Homo sapiens: one gene and its partners. The protein of the gene in region 1 purifies or fractionates together with the protein of each later gene. This does not show direct contact. Each region holds a gene or a part of one and is shown in the gene's direction. Other genes may lie near its edges.

Region 1 (3,500 bases):
AATAAGAAGTATAGGCATTCTCATACATAACCTCAGTAAATACCATTAAGAAAATAATTTTAGACATGGTGCAGTTGCTCATGCCTATAATCCCAGCACTTTGGGAGGCTGAGGTGGGAGGATGGCTTGAGCCTAGGAGTTTGAGACCAGCCTGGGCAATATAGTGGCAACTCTTCTCTACAAAAACCTTTAAAAATTAGCCAAGTGTGGTAGTATGCACCTGTTGTTGCAGCAACTCGGGAGCCTGAGATGAGAAGATTGCTTGAGCCAGGGAGGCCGAGGTTGCAGTGAGCCCAGATAGTTCCACTGCACTCTGGGGGACAGAGTAAGACCCTGTCTCAAAAAAAAAAAAAAAAAAAAGAAAGAGAGGAAATAATTTTTTAATATGATCTAACACCCAGCCTACTTACAAATTTCCCACAATAGTTCCAAGACTATTTTTATAACCTTTTTTTTCTTTTTACAGGATCCAATCAAGGTTCACGTATTGCATTTGGTTATTATTTCTCTTTAGTCTGTAAAAATCAAAAGCAGTTCTTTCGAAGGTTTTTTTTTATGACATTGACTTTTTAAAAGACTAGGCCAGTTGCCATGTGCAATGTCCAGCATTCTGGATTTATCTGGTTCTTTCCTTATGGTGTGGTTTAATTCCTCCATCGGTACTTTTTCAGTTATAACATACTTCAGAGTATTCCTTTCCTTTATATTTTTTATAAACTGGAAGTTAGATCTAAAGTCTTGACTAGATTCATTCAAGTCAAACATTTTTGGCACAAACACTTCATAGGTAATGTTGTGTGATTCATATAGTGCCATGCCAGAAAGCACATGCCACTTTGCCCCGTCTGCTGATGACGCTGGATTTGGTCACTTAGTTAAGATAACCACTGGATCTCTTCCTTATGAAGGTATGTCAGGAAGTAATCCATTCATTGGTGCTTTGGCACCATGGGTACTATCTCATCCCCCAAAACTTTTCACCTAATAGTTTTAGCATCTATTGATGATCCTTGTGCTATTATAATGGCAGTCGCAAAATGATTTTCTAATTCTGTTATCCCTCTTCTACTTATTTGCTGATTAATCTTACAGAAGGTTATTCTTCTGTAATCCCCAGACAATTTTAGGTATCTAGTACATATGCAATAATTTTTAGACAGTTTCAGGAGGTTTAGAGACCATCAAACCCCAGCATGGAGCCTGGGTGATGAGGTGTCCTGTTTTGCATGGAAGAAGAGCTGTAGCTGAGCTCTTCATAGTCCTTTTATTGTTCTTATTTTGCAAGTAAATTGCAAAATAAGTTCCCAACCCAAAGATAACACAGGCTATCCTTCAACAAAGAAAAACCTCAGCTTTTAAACTTCTAGGCCATTTGGCAAAGAGGCATGATAAAGGGCTTGAAAGCCCACAGACACGCCCAGTACCACTCCTTTTTCCTCTTTCCAAACACTTGCAGTATGTTACAACTGAAAAACTGCTGAGCCAGGCTTATTTCCTCAACAGTAAAGCCAAGGAGTTGGACCAGGCAATTCCTAGCATTTCTTTCTTTTTTTTTTTTTGAGATGGAGTCTCACTCTGTCACCCAGGCTGGAGTGCAATGGCACGATCTCGGCTCACTGCAACCTCTGCCTCCCGGGTTGAGGTGATTGATTCTCCTGCCTCAGCCTCCTGAGTAGCTGGGACTACAGGTGCATGCTACCACACCTGGATAATTTTTGTATTTTTAGTAGAGATGGGGTTTCACCGTGTTAGCCAGGATGGTCTCAATCTCCTGACATTGTGATTCACCTGCCTCGGCCTCCCAAAGTGTTGGGATTACAGGTGTGAGCCACCGTGCCCGGCCAATTCCTAGCATTTCTACCAGCATTACTAACATGTAGGAACTTGATATTACTTTCACTTGACAGTTAAATTCCTTGAATCCTTCATTTGAGCTTTGAAGGTGCTTGATTTTCCCCTCATTATGTCTCTTAAAGTCACACATACCTAGATCCATTAGTGCTTCCAGTTGGAATTTATTATCAGCACTATAAGAATCTCTTATATTTATGTAGTCCTTTTACGTTATAAAACACTTTTTATGTATTATTGTACTAGACCCTCAATGAGTGGACGTTATATCCCTGTTTTGTTTACTCTTGGGTCTTATAGACTGGGGGTTTTATTTCTGTCCCATTAATGTCACTACTGACAGAGGCCACTGAACTCTGTTGTGATGGACTTTCACCATACATAATCATTAATAGTATTGATTTGCCTGTAATTCAGGTTGCTTCATTCCAGCCTCGCAGTCACCTCTGTGCCCTGCTGGTTGTCTTCCCAGCGCTGCTGTAGTTGCCTTCCATGGATCTATAGGAGAGCAAGTCCTCCAGGTACTGCCCTGTGACGATGTTGTTGAACTCTGTAGCACGTGTGTCACTGTGGCTGGTTCTGCTCACTTCCTCTTTTGCTGCCACTTTTGAATTTAACTCTTTGTTTGTGGTTTGGACACTCACTGGATTTGGAAACCAGGGGTTGTGGGTTCTCTCCTAGATTTCCGTCTGTGTACCAGGCTTGTGCTTAGCACTTTTCCCATAATTCTTTCACATGACCTGCTTAGAAACCCTTAAAGGTAAGTATCACTCTTCCCATTTTACAGATGGATACACTGAGGCTCAGTACTTAAGTGACTTCTGTATTGTCACACAGAGTCAGGGGCAGGAGGCTGCTCTTGGGTTAGATGTGCTGAGGCTCATAACCTCAGCCTGGAACTGGGTCAGGACTACAAAGGTAAACAGAAGCAGAGTCCTTTCTGTGTGTCCCCGCTCCCTGTACAAGCCAAGGCCTCACAGCACATAGCAGCCACAGCCACCTGAGGATTCCTGCCATCTAGACGAGGCAGTTACAGCCAAGAACAAGTCCACTGAGGCTAAGCTGTGCTCCTCTGGAGGGCTGTGTTTAGAGTCCAGCCTTCTAGGGGAAGCAAATTAAACCCAAACTATAGAACAGCCCAGGGAAATACTCACAAAGGGAAATGCTGACAGTCAGACTCCTGAAGCTTCCTGATGCTTCTCGAGTTTTGGTAAAGAACCTCAGTGCTGTTTGTTTGTTTGTTTTTTAATGTTTTCTGGTTTTTTGTTTGTTTTGAGACAGTCTCTTATTCTGTTGCCCAGTCTGGAGTGTAGTAGTACAATCATGGCTCACTGTAGCCTCCACCTCCCAGATTCAAGTAATCCTTCTGCCACAGCCTCCTCAGTAGCTGAGACTACAGATGCATGCTACTACACTGGGGTATTTTAAAAAATTTTTAAATTTTTTTAGTTGAGACAGGGTCTCACTATGTTGCTGAGGCTGGTTTCAAACTCCTCGGTTCAAGTGATCCTCCTGCCTCAGCCACCCAAAGTGTTGGATTTACAGGGTGAGCCATGTCACATTGCCCTCTCTTAGTTCTTGAAACCTGAAACCTTGAGGAGCAAACAAAAGGGGTCTCTTGGCCAGGTGCAGTGGCTCACGCCTGTAAT
Region 2 (3,500 bases), on another chromosome or scaffold:
ATGCAGCGGCCCCCACACTTCCGGGGGCCCTTCCCGCCCCACCAGCAGCACCCGCAGTTCAACCAGCCTCCGCACCCCCACAACTTCAACCGCTTCCCGCCCCGCTTCATGCAGGACGACTTCCCGCCACGGCACCCCTTCGAGCGGCCGCCCTATCCCCACCGCTTCGACTACCCCCAGGGGGACTTCCCTGCCGGTGAGTGTACGGGCGCCTGGGTAGGGCCTGGCGGAGGCATCCACGGCTCGCCTGCCGAGCAGGCTGGTGGCGCTGCTTGTGGCCCTGCCATGCTCCTGAGTGCACAGTGACAGACACAGGGTCATGGGACGTCCGAGGAGCCCGGCCTGGGTTCTCAGGAAGTGGGGGCACAGACTCAGTTTTGCCGCCCTGATGAGGCCCGGCTGGCTGCAGATGAGGCAGAGCCAGTAGGAAAAGGTTCCTGCCGTGGGTGGGCGTGGCGAGGGCAGGGCGGGGCCTCGTTCTTTTTACTGCTGCTGCTTGTTTTTTGCATCAGTTTTCCCGTTGTATTAGTTCGTTTAAAAAATCAATACTTGGCGTGGTGTCGGGCGCCTATGGTCCTAGCTGCTCAGAAGGCTGAGGTTGCGGTGAGCTGTGATCGCACCACTGTACTCCACCCTGGGCGACAGACCGCTGTCTCAAAAAAAAAAAACAAAAAACTACTTTTCTTTTTTAAAAAAATTTTATTTTATTTTAAATAGAGATGGGGTCTTGCTATGTTGGCCAGGCTACTTTCAAACTCCTGAGCTCAAGCAGTCATCCCACCTCAGCCTCTAGAGTAGCTGGGTCTACAGATGTGAGCCACCATGCCTAGTATCTTTGTTATTGATTTTATTTCTAATCTTTTAGTACTTTTTTTTTTTTTTGAGACAGAGTCTCACCCTGTTGCCCAGGCTGGAGTGCAATGGCACAATCTCAGCTCACTGCAACCTCCGCCTCCCAGATTCAGATGATTCTCCTGCCTCAGCCTCCCGAGTAGCTGGGATTACAGGTGTGCGCCACCATGCCTGGCTAATTTTTTGTGTCTTTAGTAGAGACAGGGTTTCACCATGTTGCCCAGGCTGGTCTCGAACTCCTGACCTCAGGTGATCCGCCCGCCTCGGCCTCCCAAAGTGCCGGGATGAAAGGTGTGAGCCACCTCGCTTGGCCTTTTGTTGTTGTTGTTTGTTGTTTTTTTGAGACTGAGCCTCACTGTCACGCAGGCTGGAGTGCAGTGGCACAGTCTCGGCTCACTGCAGCCTCCTCTTGGGTTCAAGTGATTCTTCCACCTTGGCCTCCTCAGTAGCTGGGATTACAGGCATCAGTCACTATGCCCAGCTAATTTTTGTATTTTTAGTAGATGGGGTTTCGCCATGTTGGCCAGGCTGGTCTCAAACTCTGGGCCTCAAGTGATCTACCCGCCTTGGCCTCCCAAAGTGCTGAGATTACAGGCGTGAGCCACCATGCCCAGCCTTCTCTCTTTAAATACATTTCTGATTATAAATGCAGCTTGAAGACCGCTTGGCACATTTATTGCTTTTACTTTTTGGCTTGGGCTGACATGATAAGTCCCACAGCCTGGACGGCTTCAACAGCTGGAATGTATTGTCTTAAGGATCTGGGGGCTGGAGGTCCAAGGTGGAGGTGTGGCGGGTTCAGGTTAGTGTCTTGGAGGCCTGTCTCCTTGGCTCATAGGTGACCGTCTTCTCTCTACATGTCTGTGTCCTAATCTCTTATTATAACGGCAACAGTCACGTTGGATTCGGGCCACTATGGCTTCATTTTAACTCATTTGTGTCTTTGAAGGCTCTGTCTCCAAATACAGTTCCGTCCTGAGCTACTGGGGGCTGGGACCTCAGCGTATGGATTCGGAGGGTCACAACTTAGCCCTCACCGTGCAGTTTTGGGGTTTTGGGGTTCTCTTCTCTCAGCCTCAAGCTCCCTCGGCTGTGCCTATGGGTGCGGGACAGGCCCCTCGGAGCCTGGCTCCTCGGTGCCTTGCTGCCTGGTCTTAAGCAGTGAGAGAAGATGCTGGACAGGCTCCCAGGAGGGGTTCGTCTCCTGGCCCTTCACTGAGCCCCTCCCCTCCAGCACTTGTCGCCTGGGAGATCCTGACTGGCCTGTGGTCCTGAGGCAAGTCTCTGTTTTGCAGAAATGGGGCCCCCTCACCACCACCCTGGCCACCGCATGCCTCATCCTGGCATCAACGAGCACCCGCCTTGGGCTGGACCCCAGCACCCTGACTTCGGCCCTCCCCCCCATGGCTTCAACGGGCAGCCCCCACACATGCGGCGACAGGGCCCACCCCACATCAACCACGATGACCCCAGCCTGGTCCCCAATGTGCCCTACTTCGATCTCCCTGCTGGGCTGATGGCCCCCCTCGTGAAGGTAATGCCCCACAGTGGGCTCCAAGCTGAGCACGCTTACCATACTGGTCCCCGTTTCTCCTTGTGAAAAGTGAATGCACGGGACCGGGTGCCTTCCGGGGCTCCCCTTCATCTCCCACTCCCTAGGGACCCTGATCCGTCAGTGGGAGGTGCCGAACCGGAGTAGCACGGTGTGGCTGTGAGCGACACCATGTCTGCCCTGCCCTGCCCCTCCTATCCCTCCCACCACAGGGAGCTTCAGCCATGTGGGGCTAGCTAGGCTATGAGGCTCGAGTCCTCTCTTCGTCCTTCTTGGTCCAGGGCCTCAGAAGCACCTTGTCCCAGGGCTGCTGATGGAGGGAATGTCTTAGAAGGAGCCACCTGTGAGCTGTGCCTACCAAGCACACAGGGAGGGGGGTGGCCCTGGAGAAGCCGGGCAGGGCTGGCAGCAGCTGGTACCACTGTGGGATGGCCGGAGCATAGGGCAAGAGGTGAGGCAAGAAGGGGCCAGGTCTGGCCAGGCGTAGTGGCTCACACCTGTAATCCCAGCACTTTGGGAGGCCGAGGCGGGCGGATCACGAGGTCAGGAGATCGAGACCATCCTGGCTAACACGGTGAAACCCCGTCTCTATTAAAAAATACAAAAAATTAGCCAGGCGTGGTGGCAGACGCCTGTAGTCCCAGCTGCTCGGGAGGCTGAGGCAGGAGAATGGCATGAACCCGGGAGGCGGAGCTTGCACTGAGCCGAGATCACGCCACTACACTCCAGCCTGGGCGAGAGCAGGACTCCGTCTCAAAAAAAAAAAGGGGGGGTTGGGGAGGCCAGGGCCGGGGCTTGGGGCCTCCAAGGGCATGCTGGCCACTGCCACTTCCCACCCCCTCAGACACATCCACCTGAAGTCCAGGCAGACTTCACGGAGCCATGGGCAGCAGGGAGAGCTGCGGGCGGGGGCCCAGGCAAGCCAGGCAGGGCAGGGCCTCAACAGGAGGACAGAGACGGAGCAGAAGAAGGATACAGGCCAGGGGGCTCCAGGGCCGGGGCTGAGGCTGTTCTGAGCGGGGGCCCAGGGTAGGCATTGCAAGCAAAGGGTGACGTGAGGGGCCCGCTGCATGTCTGAATAAACCAGAGGGTGTTC
Region 3 (2,996 bases), on another chromosome or scaffold:
GGATGGTCTGTGACTCCAGTGTTTAGTATCCACCCACCACATAACATCAACTTTTCCTCAAGTTTCTTGGGGAGAAGCCATTAGGTCCACTTCATGACATTCATGATACACAAGTGAAAGTCATCGCTCCCAGGTAAGAACCCGTAGACACTGTCTCTCTCTCCACCTCTGGGCTGCAGTACGAGGAGCTGCAGATCACAGCAGGCAGACATGGGGACGACCTGCGCAACACCAAGCAGGAGATTGCTGAGATCAACCGCATGATCCAGAGGCTGAGATCTGAGATCGACCACGTCAAGAAGCAGGTATGGTGAGGGGCAATGGAGGAGAAAAGCATCATTTTTTTTATTAGGTCATGAGGCAGTAGTCACCCATCATTTAGTAAAATTCTTTGGGAATTGATTGATAAGCAGAGAAGGAAAGACATGCAGTTCCTAGGCTCAGTGAGAACACTCTGGCTCAGAGACATGGATCACACCCAAGGATATGAAACAATCACCTGGGCAGAAGCACTCTCAGCTGGTCAAAGCTGTAAAAGTATAGTCTAGAGGCATTGGAAGGGCTTATGTAAGAAGACTGATTGACTTTGGAATTGCAAAGGACCAAGTTGGGCAAGATGTCAGGTCAGAAAGCATCAGTAACATTGCTGCAAATCTGCTCAAGGTTCACGGTGAAAAAGCAAGTGAAACCAGGGCTATGAGGAAGGAAAACGTGGCCCAAGCAGGTGAGAGGATGTGAGGCAGGAGGAAGGCAAGGTCACAACAGCCTCATGTGAAAACTCATCACCTCAGTTGACAACGTTTGCAAATTATTGTGGCATCCATGTAAGGTCATCAAAAATGGTTTTGGTTTTTTTGCTTTGGAGCCAACACTTAATGTCCTTGGTCTTGTGTCCACTGTGGCATCTTCCATTGGTCATCACCCACATCTTTAGGCAGTGGAGTTAACAGAAAGGGCACAGGATTTTATCATGTGACTCCAGACGTAAAAACTTTGAAGACAGTAAAAAGGCTAGACAGGAAGAGTCAGAGCTCATTTACCATCAGTTCTGGGTTCCTGGTGCCTTCTTCACTGGAAAAGAACCAGCCAGGTTTATTCTTCTCTGGAAGACCAGATGACAAGTTCTTTCTCTTCCTTTGCCCTCCTAGTGTGCCAACCTACAGGCCGCCATTGCTGATGCTGAGCAGCGTGGGGAGATGGCCCTCAAGGATGCTAAGAACAAGCTGGAAGGGCTGGAGGATGCCCTGCAGAAGGCCAAGCAGGACCTGGCCCGGCTGCTGAAGGAGTACCAGGAGCTGATGAACGTCAAGCTGGCCCTGGATGTGGAGATCGCCACCTACCGCAAGCTGCTGGAGGGCGAGGAGTGCAGGTGGGTAACTGACGCGACTTCCTCCAACAGCTGAGTCCATCTTCAAGGTTCTGGCACTGAGCACAACTTTAAGGTGCACTGCCCAAGGCCATAATTGCTCTTCTTGGGAGAAAACTAAAAGTTTTCCCATGGACTTTCCCACCCACTGAGGCTTCCCATGCTCGTCCAGGGAAGGTCTCACCCTCCCTGTGTTCCTCTCCACAGGCTGAATGGCGAAGGCGTTGGACAAGTCAACATCTGTAAGTACCTTTGTTTGCCTTCCTCCCCTGCCCTTGCACTCTCCTGACTGGGCTCAGGCCGGCAGGATGAACTCATTGTGGCTTCTTGTGTCCTTGTCCCCTCCCCACCACAGCTGTAGTGCAGTCCACCGTCTCCAGTGGCTATGGCGGTGCCAGCGGTGTCGGCAGTGGCTTAGGCCTGGGTGGAGGAAGCAGCTACTCCTATGGCAGTGGTCTTGGCGTTGGAGGCGGCTTTAGTTCCAGCAGCGGCAGAGCCACTGGGGGTGGCCTCAGCTCTGTTGGAGGCGGCAGTTCCACCATCAAGTACACCACCACCTCCTCCTCCAGCAGGAAGAGCTACAAGCACTGAAGTGCTGCCGCCAGCTCTCAGTCCCACAGCTCTCAGGCCCCTCTCTGGCAGCAGAGCCCTCTCCTCAGGTTGCTTGTCCTCCCCTGGCCTCCAGTCTCCCCTGCCCTCCCGGGTAGAGCTGGGATGCCCTCACTTTTCTTCTCATCAATACCTGTTCCACTGAGCTCCTGTTGCTTACCATCAAGTCAACAGTTATCAGCACTCAGACATGCGAATGTCCTTTTTAGTTCCCGTATTATTACAGGTATCTGAGTCTGCCATAATTCTGAGAAGAAAATGACCTATATCCCCATAAGAACTGAAACTCAGTCTAGGTCCAGCTGCAGATGAGGAGTCCTCTCTTTAATTGCTAACCATCCTGCCCATTATAGCTACACTCAGGAGTTCTCATCTGACAAGTCAGTTGTCCTGATCTTCTCTTGCAGTGTCCCTGAATGGCAAGTGATGTACCTTCTGATGCAGTCTGCATTCCTGCACTGCTTTCTCTGCTCTCTTTGCCTTCTTTTGTTCTGTTGAATAAAGCATATTGAGAATGTGAACATGTTGTGTTAGATTGTATTGCTGACCACTTCCTGGTTTAGAAACATTCGCACCCCACAAATGGTTTCTTATCTTTGGGGAACTGCTGCTCTCCCCACTGACCAGTCATCATGGAGGATGAGTCGGGAGCTCCCCCTCCACAGCCTACTCCATCAGTCAACATTATGTGATTCTGTCGGACACTCCGGTGGACAATCACCAACTACTCAGCCCTCACCACTTGGGAATTTTTCCACAAATGGAGTCTTTTATAAAGCATCAGAACAAAAAGGGAAGCTAATTCCTGGAATCTGGATCAGCATAATCTGATAACTAAGATTCATTTATATTTTTTATTTTTCAGCCCCATCATTTGGTGGCTTGACCCCACACTGATCTCTGAGACTCCCTCTCTCCCCGGCTCCCCACCACCAGGGAAATATTGCACTGACCCTGCAGATCAGAAACACTTGGTAAGAAGCAGGTGCTTGCCCTGACTCTATGATTATTAAGACTTTTG
Region 4 (4,174 bases), on another chromosome or scaffold:
TAATGTTTTTATCTTCTGTCGAGATGGGGTCTCATAATGTTGCCCAGGCTGCTTTCAAACACCTGGCCTCAAGCGATCCTCCCACCTTAGCCTTCCAAAGGGTTGGGATCACAGGCATGTGCCACTGCGACCAGCCAGGATAATAATCTTTCATGTGATTTTCCGACTTTAAGCCCCCTGCACCCAGAGACCTTTCTGTCTCATGCCTGAAGGGAAGGAACTGGCCACGGAAAAACCTGGGAAATTCCTGGGGGAACTCCCTGAGGCAAGACTGCGCCTGGCAATTTGTAAGAAGGGGGCTGGTGCGACCTGAGCAGAGAGCTAATGGGAGGGTGAGGGAAGCCAAGGGAGATGGGGTGGGAGGTGGGAGGAGTCTTGCGGGACAATGGGAACCCAGGGGAGGCGTTAGAGCAGGGGAGGTGCATCGCGCACTGGGATTTAGGTCCCAGCAAGGTCGCTGGGGGGATGCCTTTTAGGGAATGGACTCTGTGGTCAACTACTCCTACCTGAACTGCCCCCAAAGCATTTGCTTTTCCCTCTCCACAGTCAGGACCAGTGTAACCTTAGACCCCTAATACTGCCATTTTTACTGTTGAGAACACCGAGAAGTAGTAAATGCAGAAAATCTAAAGTATAGTGCCTAAGACAAATTGGCGCCTCAAACCTAATTTCTAAATAAAATTAATAAATAATATTGCAGAAGTGGGGAGCAGGTCAGCAATCCAGGAAGAGGCACTGGCAGGAGCAAGAGACGGAATTTGAGCCTACTCGCGGTTATGAGCCTACTCGCGGTTACATTTTGGCCAAACTCAATTCCTGGTCTCTCTGAGCCTCGGTTTCCCTACCTGGACTGCGCGGTGTGTGTTAATTTCTCTGCCCCATTTATCTCCCCTCTCCTAGCCCCGCCCCAGCGTCACCAGTGGGACGCAGAGACTCAGGACTAGGAAAGCACTTTTAAAGCGTTAAGGGATTGCGAAGAGCTACGGAGAGGCTTCCTCAGGGCTATACTGGGTCCACCTCCCCTCATGGACCGCGGGCGCGCTCTGGCGGCCGGGCCGCTCCAGGCTGAAGCCGCCGGACCACGTGTGTAGTCGCAGCTGCCATCTTTCATCCGGGCATCGGCCATCTTGGTAAAGGCAATGTTCTAGATTTTCGCCTCTGCCCGCCCCTCCTGGTTCATCAACATATTAAATGAGCGTAGGGAATGAGGGCGTATTAAGTGTCCTCTTTTTGAAGAGACAAAGAAGTGGCTGACTACCCTGGCTTGGGTCCGAGGCCCAGCCATCTTTTTCTTTACCAAAATGGCGGCGGTACTGAGGCGCAATGAGTGCGCGCCGCCAGGAGCTCAGCGCGCAGGCCCCATGATGACGTCACGGAGGCGCGACCGGGCCGGCGCTGGGGTAAGAAGGTAGGAGCGTCTGCGGCGCGGGCGGAACCCGGGTTCGGGGAGCAGAGGCGCGGGGCGGGGGCTGCTTGGCCTGGGACCATCCCCTGGGAAGGCTGGAGGAGGGGTGCTGGGAGGCAGGAGCACTTCTGGCGTCCAGTCTGAACCGCACCTAGTTGGGGGCGATGCCCATTTCCAGACTAGACGATTGAAGCCCGACGCGACAGCATGTTCGAGGCCACCTGGCCCCGGACTGCCCCTAGGCAGCTTCTGGTCTCGAGAGGGACAGAGTTGGGCGCGGACTCCCCCGGCCTCTTGTAGGGGGATTAGTGGTGGGGGACTTCAAAAGGGATAGCCGGGAGGGCTGCTTAGAGGAGGCATTGTTGAATTTTGTATTCTGTTATTTTACCTTCACATCCGTGGGGTCTTAATCCCCATGGGTCTTGATTCGCTTCTAAGTGTGCCCCTCGCCCAGCCTGAGCCACTCCCTGGGTACCGCCTGGGCTCCCAGCTCCTGCCATCTGGGGAGTCCACCTCCTCACTAACCCCAGAGGGCTTGTGTGACCCATAGATTGGGCTTCCCGGCTCTAACGCCCTCCACACCTTCCCATCTCCCTGGAATACAAATCGCCCCCTTTTCCAGCCTACCTCCTGCATCCCGCGTGCAGGCTGCGCTCTCCCCCACTCATTCAGACTTTTCCTTAGATGTCTCCTTTAGGAAGCCCTTTGACCCAGGCTGGGTCAGAAGCCCTCTCCGGGCTTCCCCGGCGCCCTGCGTGTCCTTATTAGGACTCTGATTGCATGTGTTGGCTCTTCTCTGGGAGTCCCATGCAGGCAGAAAGCTCATTTGTGCCACCTCTTTCCCCAGCATCGCACACGTATTAGGTGCCCAGTACATATTTATTGAATGACGTGTGCAAGTGAGTGAGTGTTTACTACACAGAGAAAAGTGTCTGTATTTCCAGCTTGGGCTGTCATAACTAATACCACAGACTGGGTGGCTTAAACAGCAGAAATTGCCAGGCACTGTGGCTCACACCTGTAATCCAGGCACTTTGAGAGGCCGAGGCAAGCGGATCACTTGAGGTCAAGAGTTTGAGACCAGCCTGGCCAACATAGTGAAACCCCGTCTCTACTAAAAATACAAAAATCAGATAGGCATGGTGGCACATGCCAACATGGTGAAACCCCATCTCTATAAAAATACAAAAATTAGCCGGGCGTGGTGGCAGGTGCCTGTAATCCTAGCTGCTTGGGAGGCTGAAACAGGAGAATTGCTTGAACCGGGTGGGTGGAGGTTGCAGTGAGCCGAGATTGTGCCACTGCATTCCAGCCTGGGTGAAAGAGCAAAACTCCGTCTCAAAACAAAAAAAAGCCCCAACGTGGAAACAGCCCAAATGTCTAGCTGTGGACAATGGATAAACAAAATGTGGCGTATCCATGCAGTGGAGGAATATTCAGCCATAAAAAGGAACGAAGGGCCAGGCGCAGTGGCTCAGGCCTGTAATCCCAGCACTTTGGAAGGCCGAGGCGGGAGGATCACTTGAGCCCAGGAGTTCAAGGCCAGCCTGGGCAACATAGTCAGACCCTGCCTTAAAAAAAAAAAAAAAAAGCTAGGCATGGTGGCCTGCACCTATAGTCCCAGCTACTTAGGAGGCTCAGGTGGGAGGATCACTTGAGCCCAGGAGGTCAAGGCTGCAGTAAGCCGAGATTTCGCCACTGCACTCCAGCCTGGGCGACAGAGTGAGACCCTGTCTCCAAAATAAATAAATAAATGTACTCTCACACTGTGTGGCCTTTTGTGTCTGGCTTCTTTCACTTAGTATTGTGTTGTTGAGGTTCAACCACATTGTATCATGTATGTATTGGTGCCTTGTTTCCTTGTTTCCTTTTTTTTTTTTTCTTTTAAGAGACAGGGTCTTGTTCTGTTGCCCAGGCTGGAGTGCAGTGGCACAATCATAGCTCACTGTGGCCTCAGCCTCCTACGCTCAGGCGATCCTTCCACCTCAGCCTCCTAAGTAGCTGGAACTACAGGCACAAGCCACTGTGCCTAATTATTTTTTATTTTGTAGAGACGGACTCTTGCTATGTTGCCCAGGCTGGTCTTGAACTCCTGGCCTCAAGCAATCCTCCTGCCTCAGCCTCCCAAAGCACGGGGATTACAAACGTGAGTGATCGCACCCGGCCTGTGATTCCATTGATATGGACTGAAATGTCCAGAACAGGGAAAGCCACAGAGACAGAAAGCAGATTGATGGTTACCAGGGGCTAGGGGAAGAGGAATAGGGAGTGACTGCTGATGGTGATGTGGCCTCTTTTGGGGGGTGCAAGTGTTCTGGAACTAGACAGAGGTGGTATTTGCACAACGCTGTGAATATACTTAAACACTGAATTGTACACCTTTTTTTTTTTTTGAGATGGAGTCTCGCTCTGTCGCCTAGGCTGGAGTGCAGTGGTGTGATCTCAGCTCATTGCAACCTCCGCCTCCCGGGTTCAAGTGATTCTCCTGCCTCAGCCTCCCGAGTAGCTGGGATTATAGGCATGTGCCACCACACCCAGCTTTTTGGTTTTTTTTGAGAGTGAGTCTCACTCTGCCGCCTAGGCTGGAGTGCAGTTGCACGATCTCGGCTCACTGCAACCTCTGCCTCCCAGGTTCAAGCGGCTTTCCTGCCTCAGCCTCCTGAGTAGCTGGGATTAAAGGTGTCCGCCACCACACCCAGCAATTTTTATTTATTTTTAGTTGACACGGGGTTTCACCATGTTGACTAGACTGGTTTTGAACTCCTGACC
Region 5 (3,500 bases), on another chromosome or scaffold:
GGCTGGTCTTGAACTCCTGGGCTCAAGCAATGTTCCCGCCTTGGCCTCCCAAAGTGCTGGAATTAGAAGCGTGAGCAACCGTACCTGGTCAACAGTCTCTAAAAATTTTTTTTTATGACAAGGTGTCACTATGCTGCCCATGCTGGTCTCCATCTCCTGGCCTCAAGGGATCTTGCCGCCTCAGCCTTCCAAGTAGCTGGATTACAGGCTCCAGCCACTGTGCCCAGCCAGTTTAACTCATTCTTTTTTATATATTTTTTACTTTTATCTTAATTTATTTATTTTTCTGAGACAGGGTCTTACTCTGTCACCCAGGCTGGAGTGCAGTGGCAAGATCTCAGCTCACTGCAACCTCTGCTTCCTGGGTTCAAGCGATTCTCCTGCCTCAGGCTCCCGAATAGCTGGGATTACAGGTGCCCGCTACCACACCCAGCTAATTTTTGTATTTTTGTAGAGACAGGGTTTCACCATGTTGGCCAGGATGGTCTTGATCTCTTGACCTCGTGACCTGCCCGCCTCAGCCTCCCAAAGTGCTGGGATTACAGGCTCGAACCACCGTGCCTGGCCAACTCATTCTTGTTAACAGCAAAATATCCTGTAGTGTGGATGTACCCATAATTTCTTAAAATGTTCCCCATAGACAATCAGGTTATATCTAATTTTTGCCAGTGAAAAGCATGGTGTAATACACATCTTTGCTCTTATAGCCTGAAGCTTTTAGTCTGTAGAACAGATTCCCCCAAATTGGAGAGCGAGATAAAAGATTTATGTGTCTTTAAAGTTTCAAGAGATTCTGCCTCATTACTTTCCCTAAAGGTTGAGGCAGTTCTTATCCCCACCAGTAAGGTGCCAATTTTTCTGTTGGTACAATCTTAATAACCCTGGGTGTTATTTGTTTTACATTTTGTGGGTAAATGTAAACTCACGGTAAATGTAAACACAGTACCCATGTAAACGAATGGGTAAATGTCTCATTTTAATTTTGCTTTTCCTGACAGGTCACGCAGAGCATCTTTTTTTTTTTTTGAGACGGAGTCTCCCATTGTCACCCAGGCTGGAGTGCAATGGTGCAATCTTGGCTCACTGCAACCTCCCCCTCCCGAGTTCAAGTGATTCTCCTGCCTCAGCCTCCCAAGTAGCTGGGATTACAGGTGCCTGCCACCACACCCAGCTAATTTTTGTATTTTTAGTAGAGACAGGGTTTCACCATGTTGGCCAGGCTGGTCTCAAACTCCTGACCTCAGGTGATCTGCCCACCTTGGCCTCCCAAAGTGCTGGGATTACAGTTATGAGCCACAGAGCCCAGTTGTCAACATTATTTATTAAATCAGCCACTGATTTAAATGCTTCCTTTAATCTTCAGTGCTTTTAAGGGGAAAATACATTTCTGGCTACAGGAGATGGAATGCAATAACCTAATGTCAAACAAAGCCGCCCCCTCCTTTACAGACTGCAACTCCCCTGTAGCTGAAGGTTTGCTGGTTGGTAATGGGTTTTCCGTGTGTGCTTTGTGTGTGTCTCTGTAGGCAGAAGAGCACTGATCGTACTGGCTCACTCAGAGAGGACGTCCTTCAACTATGCCATGAAGGAGGCTGCTGCAGCGGCTTTGAAGAAGAAAGGATGGGAGGTGGTGGAGTCGGACCTCTATGCCATGAACTTCAATCCCATCATTTCCAGAAAGGACATCACAGGTAGGAGGAGTTCCTCCTCCCCTCTTTAATTAGTTCTTTGCGGATCTCCTTGCCTGTGGGTCCTCTGGCCCAGCTTTGGCCCCTCTGGCCCCAGCCTCTCTTTTTCTTCTCTGCAGGTAAACTGAAGGACCCTGCGAACTTTCAGTATCCTGCCGAGTCTGTTCTGGCTTATAAAGAAGGCCATCTGAGCCCAGATATTGTGGCTGAACAAAAGAAGCTGGAAGCCGCAGACCTTGTGATATTCCAGGTATGGGGGGACATCGGAAGGGGTGTCAGGGACATTTGCGTGCTTATTGTCCTAGACATGTACCTAATTAGCTATGAGATCTTAAACAGTTACCCACTTTACTGCATTCTCTGCAAATAAGGGTGATTACTTTAAAGGTGCAGTATTACATGGATTTCACAGATATTGGGAATCTGGCTGTATTACTGTTGCATGTGTAAATGCAACTGCAAGGCCAGGCACGGTGGCTCACGCCTGTAATCCCAGCACTTTGGGAGGCCAAGGCAGGTGAATCACAAGGTCAAGAGACCAAGACCATCCTGACCAACATGGTGAAACCCTGTCTTTACTAAAAGTACAAAAATTAGCTGGGCGTGGTGGCATGTGCCTGTAGTCCCAGCTACTCTGGAGGCTGAGGCAGGAGAATCACTTGAACCCGGGAGGTGGAGGTTGAAGTGAACCAAGATTGCGCCACTGCACCCCATCCTGGTGACATGGCGACAGAGCGAGATTCTGTCTCAAAAAAAAAAAAAAAAGAAAGAAAGAAATGCAGCTGCAGAGATGATGTACAGTCCTTGAGCTTGCTTTCTTCCAGGTACTTAGTCTCCCCTTCAGTTAGCGATTCCTTCAGTTAGCGATTCCTTCAGTTAGCGAATCCTGCGGTTAGCGATTCCTGTTGGACTCTCTCAAAATTTGCAGTTCTCCTCCTTTCTCCATAAGAATCCCAAATACTTTGTAGAATAATCCATGAGACATTGACTTCTCTGCCATTGTAGCCTGCCAGCTGAAGGGGGCTTTGAAACCCTGCTGAATGTGTTCCTGCAGCAAACCACGGCCTTTCTTCTTCGGGAAGCTGCCTTACCGTTTAGCAGACAATGCTGGGATTGTGCGTGCATCTCGTCAGTGATCTTTCCTATAAATGTGACTGTACTCAATGACTTTGCTTTTACAATTCCAGCCAGTCTTTTGATATTGAACATAGAATGTATATGATCCTGGAAACCACGAGGAGGGTGGTACAGGCTGTGTTTTTTTTTTCTCTCTCTCTCTCTTTTTTTTTTTTAGTTATTCAATCAGCTACAAAACATCCAATCCTTGAAGTCCTTTATTTTACCCACAGGCCTGTTGCTAAGAATCAAAGCCACATGCCACTAGCCAGTACCCCAAAGGACGGCTTTAAAAAAAAATTAAATTGGAGACAAGGTCTCACGGTCACCCAGGATGGAGTGCAGTGGCATGATCTCTGCTCACTGCTGCCTCAACCTCCTGGGCTCAAATGATCCTCCCACCTCAGTCTCCCGAATAGCTGGGACTATCAGTGCACACCACCATGCCCTGCTAATTTTTTAATTTTTTTGTACAAATAGGGTCTCACCATGTTGCCCAGGCTGGTCTCAAACTCTTGGGCTCAAGTGATCTGCCTGCCTGGACCTCCCAAAAGGCTGGGATTATAGGCATGTGCCTTTCATATCTTTAAATCATGAATCAAGGATAAGAAAACCTCCTGGTATAGTCCTTACTCTGCTTTTATTAGGATAAGAGGTCAGACAAGACTTTCTCATGGGAAGTCCCTGATGAACCTT
Region 6 (3,500 bases), on another chromosome or scaffold:
GGCCGAGCTTGCAGTGAGCCGAGATCTCGCTACTGCATTCCAGCCTGGGCGACAGAGTGAGACTCCGTCTAAAAAAAAAAAAAAAAAAAAAAAAGCAGTCGGGCGTGGTGGCTCATGCCTGTAATCCCAGCACTTTGGGAGGCCAAGGCGGGCAAATCACGAGATCAGGAGTTCGAGACCAGCCTGGCCAACATAGTGAAACCCCATCTCTACTAAAAATACAAAAAATTAGCTGGGTGTGGTGGCGGGCGCCTGTAATCCCAGCTACTCGGGAGGCCGAGACAGGAGAATTGCTTGAACCCAGGAGGTGGAGGTTGCAGTGAGCTGAGATGCGCCACTGCACTCCAGCCCAGGCAACAGTGCGAAACTTTGTCTCAAAAAAAAAAAAAGCAGAGTTTGACTACAGGGACAGAGATTTGCTCCAGGCTCACCCTTCCTGTTCACCATTTCACCTGTGTCTTTTACTTTTTCCATGATGAACACACAAAACTCTTCAAACACCTTTTATCTATGGCCAATCTGCCAAGCTCTATTCTTTTTTAAGTTTACACATTTTTTTTAAGTTCACATTATTTTTCCATTATAAAATCAGCATTAGCACGTTGCAGAACATTTCCATTAGAGGAAAAGGAGAGGGAGGGAATCACTCATCATCCTAACATAGCCACTGACAAAATTTTTGTTTTAATTCCTTTCAGTCTTTATGCATATTTTTAAATGATGTGATCTTTTAAACTTTTTATTATTAAAATGTAAAAGCATCTGGGGCCTGGTGCGGTGGCTCACACCTGTAATCCCAGCACTTTGGGAGGACGAGGCAGGCAGATCACTTGAGGTCAGGAGTTTGAGACCAGCCTGGCCAACATGGTGAAACCCTGTCTCTACTAAAAATACAAAAATTAGCTGAGTGTGGTGGTGCACAATTGTAATCCTAGCTACTCGGGAGGCTGAGGCAGGAGAATTGCTTGAACCCAGGAGGTGGAGGTTGCAGTGAGCTGAGATCGCACTACTGCACTCCAGCCTGGGTGACAGAGCAAGAGACTCTGTCTCAAAAAAAATTTTTTTAATTAAAAAACATTCAGAAAAGCAAAGAGTACAGTGAATTTCCATATGCCTAACACCTCAATTCAACAATTACCAATATAATGCCAACATCATGATACTTTATCCTTGATTATTCAGGATATATCTCCCAAAACTCAGTATACTCTCTAATATTATTATAAACCTAACATAATGAATAGTGAGTAGTTTCCTACTATCATTTAATAACCAGTTAATGTGGCCAGGCCTGGGTGATGCTGGTAAATTTACAGTTCTGAATGTCCTTTCTGTTTGTGTCTTTGTTAGTTTTGTTTTCCTTTTTCTAGTTTCTGGGCTGAAATTTCAAACTTGCTTATGTCACATAGCCATATTCCTTTACCCCAGTGGTCTCTGAGCTTATAATACACGTAAATACACTACATTGGCAGTTGATTGTGTGTTACTTTATGACTGATCTCAAGGTATTATTTAGCATGTCATTTATTTATGCCTTGTCTCTCCGACCACTTTTTATATTCCTTAAGGTAGAGGGCATATTTTATCCTAATCTGATTTCCCAGGTTGCCTAACAGTACAGCTTAGTTGGAGCTCAATACATATTGCCTGATTAATATCTCTCATTCCCCCACTTGCTAGTTGTATTTTTCACCTCTGCTTCTCCCTTCAGCTTATAATTGCAAGCTCTTGGTTCCTCACTCCCTAACTCTTTCTTCTTAGCTCTGTCTTTCTTTGCCTCATACCTATGTTTTAGAAATTACTGTAGCTCAATAACCTCAGATAATTAATTCATCTTTTAAAGGCAACCAGTGATTAGCCTTCCAAAGGAATTATTAGACTTTTTTTTTCTGCTTAAGAAATTATGTTTTACTACTTTTAGAGAGTGTAGGATTAATGTTTTACATTTTCAGAATATTTTACCATAATTAGACCTCTGAAATGGAGAGGTCATATCATTCTCCAAGGATCATTTAATTCATAGACCCCTGCCAAGAGAGTGCTTGGTGGTGTGGTGGTAGTAGTGATATTTACACCTGTTTGCTGGGAGAAGAGCCAAGGTAGTCAGCTGATTTTACAGAAAGGTTCTGGAAAGTCACTGGGTGGTCACAAGACATCACCTTGGGCTGCTGATACAGTGGGAATTCCATCTTAGAGGTCATGCTGCCACCGTGGCAGGACACATGGCATATGGCACATGCTTTCCTTTAGCTCGTAGACTGTTCTATATCTTATGGGTATGTGGTAACTACTGCCCAAAGGTAGACTGCAGACCTTTTATAATGAGCTAGACATACCAGTGTCCAGAAAAGCATTTTGAACTATATGGAAGTTTTTTGGTTTTTGTTTTGTTTTGTTTTGTTTTGTTTTGTTTTGTTTTAGAGGACTATGTTAGTTTTTAAGCTCCTGGAAGGCAAAAACAATCTCCTTTAATAATAATAGTGATGATAATAATAGCAACAACAATTATAATAATGACTAACATTTATTGAGTGCTTACTCTGAATCAGGCACCTTTCTGGAAACTTTAGCTATAAGAATCCATTCACTTCAAACAACCATCTTAGATGCCATGTTTATCTCTTTTTTTAAAGATGAGGGAATTGAATTAAAGAAGAGATTAAGCAACTAGCCCAAGGTCATGCAACTATGTAGTAAAGCTGAGACTCAAACCTTAGGCAGTCTTGTTCCAAAGCCCCTGCCCTTAACCATTAGCCACATAGTGCTGAGTGTTTACTGAGAACATTTCAAATACATTTCAAACACCCAGCAAATTACAAGTCACAATTATATGGATTTAATCAGAAAAAAACAGGGGAACATGCTGAAGTAAAGTGCTATTTTTATGTTTGACAGATGAGAAAAGACCAAGCAGTATGAGTTTTAACTTTGATTCAGTACTGGTTAGCTTTTCATAACAAAATCCTATTAATCATACTTTAACTTATTTGGATAGATCTTAAATTGAATGCAAATCCCTAGTGCCATAGAATGAGTGAATTATATGTTATCATAGTTATTCATCAATGAGTTGCCTTTAAGAATATAATCTGAGGCCAGGTGCGGTGGCTCACTCCTGTAATCCCAGCACTTTGGGAGTCCAAGGTGGGTGGATCACCTGAGGTCAGGAGTTCAAGACCAGCCTTACCAACATGGTGAAACCCTGTCTCTACTAAAAATACAAAATTAGCCGGCCGTGGTAGCACATGCCTGTAATCCCAGCTACTTGGGAGGCTGAGGCAGGAGAATTGCTTGAACCCAGGAGGCGGAGACTGCAGTGAGCCGAGATTGCACCATTGCACTCCAGCCTGGGCAACAAGAGCGAAACTCTGGGGTCTCAAAAAAAAAAAAGAAAAGAAAAAAAAAGAGTATAACCTGCACCTGGGTCAGATTTTGCTAAATGCATATTTATTTAGCTAAATAAATTCCATATTTATTTAGAGGTTCACCTTGCTTGGAAT
Region 7 (2,570 bases), on another chromosome or scaffold:
ACAGAAGTTTATCCAGAACCGTCAGATATACACTACCTGAGTCGGGTTTACACTTTGTTGTCATACCAGATTTTTTTTTTTTTTTTTTTTTTTGAAACACAGTCTCACTCTGTCACCCAGGCTGGAGTGCAGTGGTATGATCTTCGCTCACTGCAGCCTTGACCGCCCGGGCTCAAGCTATCCTCCCGCCTCAGCCCCCTCCACCGAGTAGCTGGGACTACTGGCGCACACCACCACACCCAGCTAATTTTTGTATTTTCTGTAGAGGTGGGGTTTCGCCATCTTGCCCAGGCTGGTCTTGAATTCCTGGACTCAAGCGATCCACCTGCCTCGGCCTCCCAAAGTGCTGGAATTACAGGCGTGAGCCACGGCGCCCAGCCATATCAGATTATTTCTAATGACGGTAAATTCTCTCAATTTAAAAGTGGTAATTCTTTAACTGCTTGCTCTCAGCTGTGGAATAATGGCAACAGAAAGACTGGCTAACTACACCGGAGGCATCTATGCCGAATACCAGGACACCACATATATAAACCATGTCGTTTCTGTGGCTGGGTGGGGCATCAGTGATGGGACTGAGTACTGGATTGTCCGGAATTCATGGGGTGAACCATGGGTAAGATGTTTTCATTTTCTTAAGGTCATTCCTAGAAAAAAACGTCCTGGTACTCCTCTCGCTTGAATGGTTCTGTTTACGTTTAGCTAAAAACTGGGGCCTTGACAGAGGGTTCCTTGCTCCAGCTGTCTCAGCCACCGCGCGAGTGGCTTTTGGGGCCAGACCCTTCTCTGACATGCGCGGCTGCCGCCATCCTGTGCACTTTGGGTGTTCAGCAGCATCCCTGGCCCCTCCACCCACTAGGTGACTCCCCGCAATCCCAGTGTGACCAAAACCGTCTCCAGATGGTGCCTGGTGCCCTGGGGAAGTCCCTGTGAGCACTGCTGGAGAGGGGCTCTGCCACCCTCTTCCTTTACAACCAGCTCATTCTTTTTCCCATCATGGTTTTTGGGCTCCCCTAAAATACTGTGTCGGTTTTTCAAAAATACTCGAGTTGGGCCAAAAATCCAGGAGAGAGAAATTAACTGCCAGACCTAGTCTTAGCCATTAATAATTTAAGACACAGAAATTCATGATTAAGAAATGGGGGGAAAGCGGTTCATGTGCAGGTGATGAAATGTCGTCATTTTTTACTAGGTGACTAATGGGGGTAGTAGTAGCTGGAGGAGGCACCAGTCTAGAGTCAACATGTTTTGTGAGATGAATTCACTTCTGGCATAGAGGGCCCTCATGTTAAACATTAACCAAGTGAAATGTTTCACAAAAGGTATTTCAGAACAGGGGTCATGGGAAAGCTGAGGGGCAGCTGAGTGGGCTGTCTGGATCCCCCAAGGCTGGCCTGAGAGATGGAGGCAGAAAGCAGGGGGCAGGGGGCTGACGGCAGCAAGGGGAGCGGGAGACGGCTGCAGATGGGCTGACGCGCGATCCCACTTCTCACAGGGCGAGAGAGGCTGGCTGAGGATCGTGACCAGCACCTATAAGGATGGGAAGGGCGCCAGATACAACCTTGCCATCGAGGAGCACTGTACATTTGGGGACCCCATCGTTTAAGGCCATGTCACTAGAAGCGCAGTTTAAGAAAAGGCATGGTGACCCATGACCAGAGGGGATCCTATGGTTATGTGTGCCAGGCTGGCTGGCAGGAACTGGGGTGGCTATCAATATTGGATGGCGAGGACAGCGTGGCACTGGCTGCGAGTGTTCCTGAGAGTTGAAAGTGGGATGACTTATGACACTTGCACAGCATGGCTCTGCCTCACAATGATGCAGTCAGCCACCTGGTGAAGAAGTGACCTGCGACACAGGAAACGATGGGACCTCAGTCTTCTTCAGCAGAGGACTTGATATTTTGTATTTGGCAACTGTGGGCAATAATATGGCATTTAAGAGGTGAAAGAGTTCAGACTTATCACCATTCTTATGTCACTTTAGAATCAAGGGTGGGGGAGGGAGGGAGGGAGTTGGCAGTTTCAAATCGCCCAAGTGATGAATAAAGTATCTGGCTCTGCACGAGACTGAGGCTGCCCGTGCCTTATTCGCACACAAAAACAATGTCACATCAGGACTTAATCCAACCCAGCAGAAAGGCTTTTTAAAAATTTACTTATTACTTGTTCTTAGCAAATTAAGACAATTACAATAAAACATCAGCTAACTGGGTTCTTGTGAGAAAACTGAGGTCAGCTTGGAAAGGAGTTCCCCGAGTGGAGTTCCCAGCGGCCCGCGGCTGACGGCCAGATCTGTCCTGAGGGGTCGTGGGAGCCCAGCGCCTGCCTTGAGGGAAATGAACACTGAAAACAGGATTTGGGAGCAGTATTGGATTGACAGCAGAGAAGGGACTGTTTGTAAGGGCAGTTTCTCACTGAAGCTGCTACCATTTTCCTTTGTAAAGAAGTCATCCACCTCCTCCCAGCGGTGCCCATTTTCAAGACGCTGCCCGAGCCTCTTAAAACAGCTTCTTGAAAGGGTTTTTCCACAACGGGTTCTGGAATGTTCTGCTTCAGCTCTGGAGGAT

The links.
Region 2: the proteins of TRIM26 (region 1) and CHERP purify together in Homo sapiens (affinity purification with mass spectrometry; one large-scale study listed by BioGRID and IntAct). This does not show direct contact.
Region 3: the proteins of TRIM26 (region 1) and KRT6B purify together in Homo sapiens (affinity purification with mass spectrometry, with the first as the bait; one large-scale study listed by BioGRID). This does not show direct contact.
Region 4: the proteins of TRIM26 (region 1) and CCDC124 purify together in Homo sapiens (affinity purification with mass spectrometry, with the first as the bait; one large-scale study listed by BioGRID). This does not show direct contact.
Region 5: the proteins of TRIM26 (region 1) and NQO1 purify together in Homo sapiens (affinity purification with mass spectrometry, with the first as the bait; one large-scale study listed by BioGRID). This does not show direct contact.
Region 6: the proteins of TRIM26 (region 1) and METTL8 purify together in Homo sapiens (affinity purification with mass spectrometry, with the first as the bait; one large-scale study listed by BioGRID). This does not show direct contact.
Region 7: the proteins of TRIM26 (region 1) and CTSZ purify together in Homo sapiens (affinity purification with mass spectrometry, with the first as the bait; one large-scale study listed by BioGRID). This does not show direct contact.

The regions. Positions count from the first base shown.
Region 1 is NC_000006.12:30,199,907-30,203,406, reverse strand, and holds part of TRIM26 (tripartite motif-containing protein 26), read left to right. Parts: intron 1-2,268; 5' UTR 2,269-2,372; intron 2,373-3,500.
Region 2 is NC_000019.10:16,521,938-16,525,437, reverse strand, and holds part of CHERP (calcium homeostasis endoplasmic reticulum protein), read left to right. Parts: coding exon 1-196; intron 197-2,147; coding exon 2,148-2,386; intron 2,387-3,500. UniProt on the Homo sapiens protein: Involved in calcium homeostasis, growth and proliferation.
Region 3 is NC_000012.12:52,446,151-52,449,146, reverse strand, and holds the end of KRT6B (keratin, type II cytoskeletal 6B), read left to right. Parts: intron 1-179; coding exon 180-305; intron 306-1,148; coding exon 1,149-1,369; intron 1,370-1,573; coding exon 1,574-1,608; intron 1,609-1,721; coding exon 1,722-1,957; 3' UTR 1,958-2,496; downstream 2,497-2,996.
Region 4 is NC_000019.10:17,931,641-17,935,814, forward strand, and holds the start of CCDC124 (coiled-coil domain-containing protein 124), read left to right. Parts: upstream 1-1,374; 5' UTR 1,375-1,408; intron 1,409-3,455; exon of another isoform or gene 3,456-3,551; intron 3,552-4,174. UniProt on the Homo sapiens protein: Ribosome-binding protein involved in ribosome hibernation: associates with translationally inactive ribosomes and stabilizes the nonrotated conformation of the 80S ribosome, thereby promoting ribosome preservation and storage.
Region 5 is NC_000016.10:69,716,561-69,720,060, reverse strand, and holds part of NQO1 (NAD(P)H dehydrogenase [quinone] 1), read left to right. Parts: intron 1-1,526; coding exon 1,527-1,691; intron 1,692-1,807; coding exon 1,808-1,938; intron 1,939-3,500. UniProt on the Homo sapiens protein: Flavin-containing quinone reductase that catalyzes two-electron reduction of quinones to hydroquinones using either NADH or NADPH as electron donors.
Region 6 is NC_000002.12:171,332,991-171,336,490, reverse strand, and holds part of METTL8 (tRNA N(3)-cytidine methyltransferase METTL8, mitochondrial), read left to right. Parts: intron 1-3,500. UniProt on the Homo sapiens protein: Mitochondrial S-adenosyl-L-methionine-dependent methyltransferase that mediates N(3)-methylcytidine modification of residue 32 of the tRNA anticodon loop of mitochondrial tRNA(Ser)(UCN) and tRNA(Thr).
Region 7 is NC_000020.11:58,994,685-58,997,254, reverse strand, and holds the end of CTSZ (cathepsin Z preproprotein), read left to right. Parts: intron 1-453; coding exon 454-616; intron 617-1,495; coding exon 1,496-1,606; 3' UTR 1,607-2,070; downstream 2,071-2,570. UniProt on the Homo sapiens protein: Exhibits carboxy-monopeptidase as well as carboxy-dipeptidase activity. Capable of producing kinin potentiating peptides.